Linked DNA regions of Homo sapiens. The protein of the gene in region 1 binds, or shares a complex with, the protein of each later gene. Each region holds a gene or a part of one and is shown in the gene's direction. Other genes may lie near its edges.

Evidence for each region.
Region 2: ARPC5 (region 1) and ARPC3 share a complex: the UniProt entries of both Homo sapiens proteins name them as parts of the arp2/3 complex.

The regions. Positions count from the first base shown.
Region 1 is NC_000001.11:183,629,284-183,632,783, reverse strand, and holds part of ARPC5 (actin-related protein 2/3 complex subunit 5), read left to right. Parts: intron 1-2,146; coding exon 2,147-2,323; intron 2,324-3,500. UniProt on the Homo sapiens protein: Component of the Arp2/3 complex, a multiprotein complex that mediates actin polymerization upon stimulation by nucleation-promoting factor (NPF).
Region 2 is NC_000012.12:110,440,338-110,443,837, reverse strand, and holds part of ARPC3 (actin-related protein 2/3 complex subunit 3), read left to right. Parts: intron 1-3,449; coding exon 3,450-3,500. UniProt on the Homo sapiens protein: Component of the Arp2/3 complex, a multiprotein complex that mediates actin polymerization upon stimulation by nucleation-promoting factor (NPF).

The DNA.
Region 1 (3,500 bases):
TTACAAAAATAAACAGATTGTAATTGCTTTTTAAAGATTTTTTAAAACCATACAAATACTAAATACTTATTATAGAAAGCTCAGACATATGAGAAGGTTAAAAAGATAGTGGTTTGTGGTCCCAGCACCCAGAGATAACAGTTACTACTTTGGGGCCTTGCTGTATTGTTACAGAGTTCCCTTTTGTTTTTTTAAGAATGAAATTTTATAACGTGCTTTTTCAGCTATATGCAATGTACATGAGCTTTCCTTCGCAATAAGTTTATAGCATTTTTAACACTTGTATATGGATAAGCTGCAGTGTATACATAACTAATCTTTTGTTATATATTTAGACTGACTTTTTTTTTCCTATTGTAAACCACTGAAATCAATATTTTTTGGTAAATTTTTAATTGTTCTCTTTGAGTAAATTGCTAGCAGTGAATTACTGGATCAAAGAATGCACTTTTTTTTAAGGCTTTTGGTATGCAGTATTGCCAAATTGCCCTTCAGAACAGTTGTGCAACTTACATTCTCTGCAGTCTTTTACTAATTCTTAACCTATTTACGTATTTATTTAAAATGATGCCCATAGCATCAACCCCGTTGTCCATAGCTATTCATACATCCTAGGAGCTTCAAGAATCTCAATTGAATAGTAGTAAGTAATAACTTAGGTAAATGCATAATAATTATCTAGGTAACATAATTTTTTATTGGGGAAAATTTCTTTGGTTTTTACAAGTTGTAAAGATTGTCGTTGAAATTTCATTTTTACCGTGGATGCAAAGATATTTTTCTAAATCTGGTAATTGCAGTCTTTAAACCAAAGATAACAGTAGGTGGTAGAAACATTCTGTGAAATCCTGACCAGTAGGAATGCTGGAGGTATCACTTTGTGTTGAATGGAAGGAGAAACGAATTGTTGAAAAGGTCAGTTAAGTGTTTCCTTTGCTTGGCCGGATGGGTAAGAAAATAACTGCTTTTGAAGCAGGCTTTTGCCAAAGAAAAAAGATCATTATTAATGAACATCACTATATTTCATATCTACAGTCAATTCATATAAATTACAGTCAATTTTCTTTTAAGACAGCTTGGTTTATTAAAATTTTTAAATAAAAAAGTTTTTAAGAAAAAATTACTTCTGAAGGATAATTCAAGGTGAAACTGCAAATCTGCCTCCTTGTTTTGTTGGGAATTTTTTTTTTTTTTTTTTTTTTTTGAGACGGAGTCTCACTCTATCACCCAGGTTGGAGTGCAGTGGTGCAATCTCAACTCACTGCACCCTCCGCCTCCCGGGTTTAAGCAATCCTCCTGCTTCAGCCTCCCGAGTAGCTGGGATCACAGGCACACACCACCATGCCTGGATAATTTCTGTATTTTTAGTAGAGACAGGGTTTTACCATTTTGGCCAGGCTGGTCTCGAACTCCTGACCTCAGGTGATCTGCCCATCTCGGCCTCCCAAAGTGCTGGGATTACAGCTGTGGGCCACCACACCCGGCCGTTTTGTTGGGATTTTTTTTTTTTAAGATCAAGACATAAATTTAAATGTTGTTTTAATAAATTGTTAAATTATCACATTGATCTGTTAGCAAATCCTCTCAGCTCTGCCTTCAATTATGTTAATAGTCTGTCTAGTTTCTTACCACCTCCACTGCTACTATGCTTACCACATCCAGCCTGTATTATTGCAATTGCCTCCTAATTGCTCTCCCTGCTTCTACCTTATCCCCTACTCCCACAGCTTATTTTCTGTAACATAGATGCCAAAGCAATCCTGTTAAAATGTGAGTCAGATTATGGCACTGCTCTTAAAACCTTCCAATGTCTTCTCATTTCTCTCAGTAAAAGCCAAACTCCTTACAATGCCTGTAGGCCTTACACGATCTGTCCTCCCATAACCTCTGACTTACTCACGTGCTTTTCTCCCACCAATCCACTCCAACCACATTGGGTTTTTTTCTGTTCCTGGAACACACTGAACACACACTAATAGCACTGTTCTTTCCTCTGTCTGAAACACTTTCCTCAGTTATCCCAAGCCTTCTTTCACGTCCTTCAGGTCCTTACTCAAATGTCACATTCATAGTGTAGACTTTCTGAAATTCTAAACCCTCCTCATACAGATATGTCTAAATGTTCTGTTATTTATTGACCCACCAGGACCGGGCAGGCAGCATTGTCTTGAAGGTGCTCATCTCTTTTAAAGCTAATGATATAGAAAAGGCAGTTCAATCTCTGGACAAGAATGGTGTGGATCTCCTAATGAAGTATATTTATAAAGGATTTGAGAGCCCGTCTGACAATAGCAGTGCTATGTTACTGCAATGGCATGAAAAGGTAAGTTATGAATTATAAATCTATATGACTGGTTCTTTTACAATAGGGAATGACAATGACAACCTCTCTCACCTAAATAACCATTTTGATTTGTTGTACATTTTTGTTATTACAAATAAAATGCATGAAAAGGATAGTTCATATTTATGTTTACTAGCCTTGGTCTTAAGAGATTCTGATTCCAACACTTGTGTTTATTCAACAATGATTATTAGTAATTAAACATAATCTTGAACTCTGAATTAAATCAAAACTTTGTAAAAGAAAATAAGCAATACAAATCAAGAATTCTTTCACAGTGACCAAAAGGTGAAAACAACACAAGGATCATAACAGATGAACAGCTAAATTGTGGTACATACATACAATGGAATATGATTCAACCATTAAAAGGAATGACATTCTGACACATGCTATAACATTAATAAACCTTGAAAACATACCAAGTGAAATGAGCCAAACACAAAAGAACTAATATTTTATAATTTTACTTATATGAAATAATCTAGGATAGGCAAACACAAAGGGACAGAAAGTCCTTAGAGGTTACTAGGAAGTAGGGAAAGCAAGGAATAGGGAGTTAGTGCTTAATAGGTACAGAGTTCCTCCTTGGAGTGGTAAAAAAGTTTTGGAAACAGATAGTGGTGATGGCTACAGTACATTGTGAATATAATTAATGCCAATGGATTTTACACTTAAAGATGGTTAAAATGGCAAATTTTGTGTTAGATATTTTACAACTTTTTTAAAGAATTAGGAGTTTGGAGGATCAAGAATTCTTAAATCATGTTTTTCTATTTTCATGTGTATATTTTGCAATGTAAGTAGATGCTGGTACATCATCTGTCAAAAGAGTATAAGTGATTTTGAGCTTTGGGTAAAAAACTGGATAACATGTAAATAGAACCAGTCATAAAAATATTGAGTGTTTGAAGTGTATCTGAGTGAAAACACAAACATAAGAAAAAAGCACATAGTAAAACAATAGTTCCCCCTTTTACTCTAAAATGCACCAATTTGGGTAGTAATTTATATGGCACCCTATTCATGGAACACTTTCTGTTGCCAGGTACCATACTATTAATGTTTTATTTAACCTTTACAACAACCCTGTGAAGTATATAAATATCTTTATCATCCTCAATTTACAGATGAAAAGCTAGCTTTAAAACCCAAG
Region 2 (3,500 bases), on another chromosome or scaffold:
CCTTTGCCCCCTCCTGTCATTGCATTTAGAAGAACTAGCTGGTTTTTGGAAACAATATTGAGTCCTCCAAGACAGTTTTCTTTCACAGATAAGAAAACAGATTGCAGCCAGGCATAGTGGCTCACGCCTGTAATCCCAGCACTTTGGGAGGCTGAGGCGGGCAGATTGCCTCAGGTCAGGAGTTTGAGACCAGCCTGGCCAACATGGTGAAACTCTGTCTCTACCAAAAATACCAAAATTAGCTAGCTGTGGTGGCAGGCACCTGTAGTCCCAGCTACATGGGAGGCTGAGACAGGAGAATCACTTGAACTCAGGAGGCGGAGGTTGCACTGGGCCTAGATTGTGCCATGGCACTCCAGCCTGGGCGACAAAGTGAGACTTGATCTCGAAAAAATAAATAAATAAAAAATAGGGCGTGGCGCGGTGGCTCACGCCTGTAATCCCAGTACTTTAGCACTTTGGGAGGCCAAGACGGGTGGATCACGAGGTCAGGAGATCGAGACCATCCTGGCTAACACGGTGAAACCCCATCTCTACTAAAAATACAAAAAATTAGCCAAGCGTGGTGGCGGGCTCCTGTAGTCCCAGGTACTCGGGAGGCTGAGGCAGGAGAATGGCGTGAACCCAGGAGGCAGAGCTTGCAGTGAGCCAAGATTGCACCACTGCACTCCAGCCTGGGCAACAGAGCGAGACTCCATCTCAAAAAAAAAAAAAGTAAATTGCAAGGAACACAAGTCTAGAGTTAGAGTTCTGTTGAAATTCTTCCACAGGGCAATGAGCTGGGATGAAGACAACTGAATTGCAGAGTATGAAAGCTTCAAGATTACTTTGCATTTCTGCTGTGCGAGAACGTTAACAGTCATAGACAAGAAGTATAAGTAACTGTCTCAGCACTGCTGAAACCAACTGCCAGATATCAAGACCCTGGGATTTTGACCTTTTTAAAATAAGAAGAAGAAAAACAAAAAATTGCCAAACAAATTGTGTCATGAGATCTGTCTTTGTCAAGACAGTATTTCTGGCTTTTGTCCGTCTAGAGCTACCTACAACAGCTTGTACAAGTATATTTTAAGTCATAGTTTTCATAAAAAGAAAGATGTGTATCTGAACCTCAACATGTTCTAAATAATTGAGTTTTTTTCTGAAACTATAATATGTAAATTCAAATAAAATTATATTGAATACTTTTTATTTTATTTAATTATATATATTTTTTATTATTACTTTTTTGAGATGGAGTCTCGCTCTGTCACCCAGGCTTGAGTTTGGTGGAATGATCTCAGCTCACTGCAACCTCTGCCTCCTGGGTTCAAGCAATTCTCCTGCCTCAGCCCCCTGAGTAGCTGGGATTACAGGCACGTACCACCATGCCCGGCTAGTTTTTGTATTTTTAGTAGAGACAGGGTTTCTCCATGTTGGCCAGGCTGGTCTCGAACTCCTGACCTCAGGCAATCCATCCGCCTCAGCCTCCCAAAGTGCTGGGACTACAGGCGTGAGCCACTGCGCCCGACTGAATACTTTTTATTTTTAGGAAGCAGTTAAAGTTAGTCTATGTCTCAGTGTTTTTTTATAAATGCATTGAGAGACGTCTTGAATAATGTTCACCAAATGCTAATGGTAGTTATTTTTGGGGAAATGGGAATTAAGGTGACAATTAAAAATTTTTTTTTTGCCTGGTGCTGTGGCTTATGCCTGTAATCCTAGCTACTCAGGAGGCAGGAGGATCACTTGAGGCCAGGAGTTTGAGACCAGCCTAGGCAACATAGTGAGACTGCATCTCTAAAAAAAACTTTTTTTTTTTTTTTGGAGACAGAGTTTTGATCTCGTTGCCCAGGCTGGAGTGCAATGGTGCAATCTTGGCTCACTGCATCCTCCACCCGCGAGTTCAAGCGATTCTCCTGCCTTAGCCTCCCGAATAGCTGGGATTACAGGTGCCTGCCACCATGCTTGGCTAATTTTTTGTATTTTTAGTAGAGGCGCAGTTTCACCATGTTGGCCAGGCTGCTCTCAAACTCCTGACCTCAGGTGATCCACCCGTCTCGGCCTCCCAAAGTGTTGGGATTACAGGCGTGAGTCACTGTGCCCAGCCATCTTTAAAAACTTTTCTTTAAAAATTTTATTTAATTTTTAAAGAAAAAAATTAGCCAGGCCTCATGGTGCATGCCTGTAGTCCCGGCTACCTGGGAAGCTGAAGCAGGAGGATCACTTGCGCTCAGGAATTCAAGTCTGTGGTGAGTTATAATTGTACCACTGCACTCCAGCCCGGGTAACAGAGCAAGACCTCTCTCTAAAAAATAAAACTGTTTTGATTGAATTTCATTTTCTAATGAGCATGTATAAGTTTTACGAAAACAATAAAGCTGTAAAAATAAACCATGTACTACTTTTCTATAAATATTTTCTGAAAATCCGGGGGTGGTGGCTCACTCCTGTAATCCCAGCACTTTGGGAGGCTGAGGCAGGCAGATCACGAGGTCAGGAGTTCGAGACCAGCCTGACCAACAAGGTGAAACCCCATTTCTACTAAAAATACAAAAATTAGCCAGGCCTGGTGGTACATGCGTATAATCCCAGCTACTTGGGAGGCTGAGGCAGGAGAATCGCTTGAACCCGGGAGGCAGAGTGAGCCGAGATCATGCCATTTCACTCCAGTCTGGGCGACGGAGCAAGACTCCGTCTCAAAAAAAAAAAATTTGGCCGGGCACGGTGGCTTATGCCTGTGATCCCAGCACGTTGGGAGGCCGAGATGGGCGGATCACGAGGTCAGGAGATCAAGACCATCCTGGCTAACACGGTGAAACCCCGTCTTTACTAAAAATACAAAAAATATAGCTGAGCATGGTGGCAGGTGCCTATAGCCCCAGCTACTTGGGAGGCTGAGGCAGGAGAATGCCGTGAACCCGGGAGGCGGAGCTTGCAGTGAGCCAAGATCGCGCCACTGCACTCCAGCCTGGGCGACAGAGTGAAACTCTGTCTCAAAAAAAAAAACAAAGGCTGGGCACGGTGGCTCATGCCTGTAATCCCAGCACTTTGGGAGGCCGAGATGGGCGGATCACGCGGTCAGGAGATCAAGACCATCCTGGCTAACATGGTGAAACCCCATCTCTACTAAAAATACAAAAAATTAGCGGGGTGTGGTGGCAGGTGCCTGTAGCCCCAGCTACTCAGGAGGCTGAGGCAGGAGAATGGCGTGAACCCGGGAGGCAGAGCTTGCAGTGAGCCAAGATCACGCCACTGCACTCCAGCCTGGGTGACAGAGCGAGACTCTGTCTCAAAAAAAAAACAAATAAATATTTTCTAAAAACTTTGTATTTCAATAGGATCATTTTATTTTATTCAACTCCACAACTGTTGACAGTTGTATGTGTTTTCCCTTTATGGCTTTGATAGTTGTTATGTTTTGTATTTGGCTAATGTTCTCTGTGCTCCTTCCCTTGTGTCCTGCTTAGCAAAAGATACAGATATTGTGGATGAAGCCATCTATTACTTCAAGGCCAATG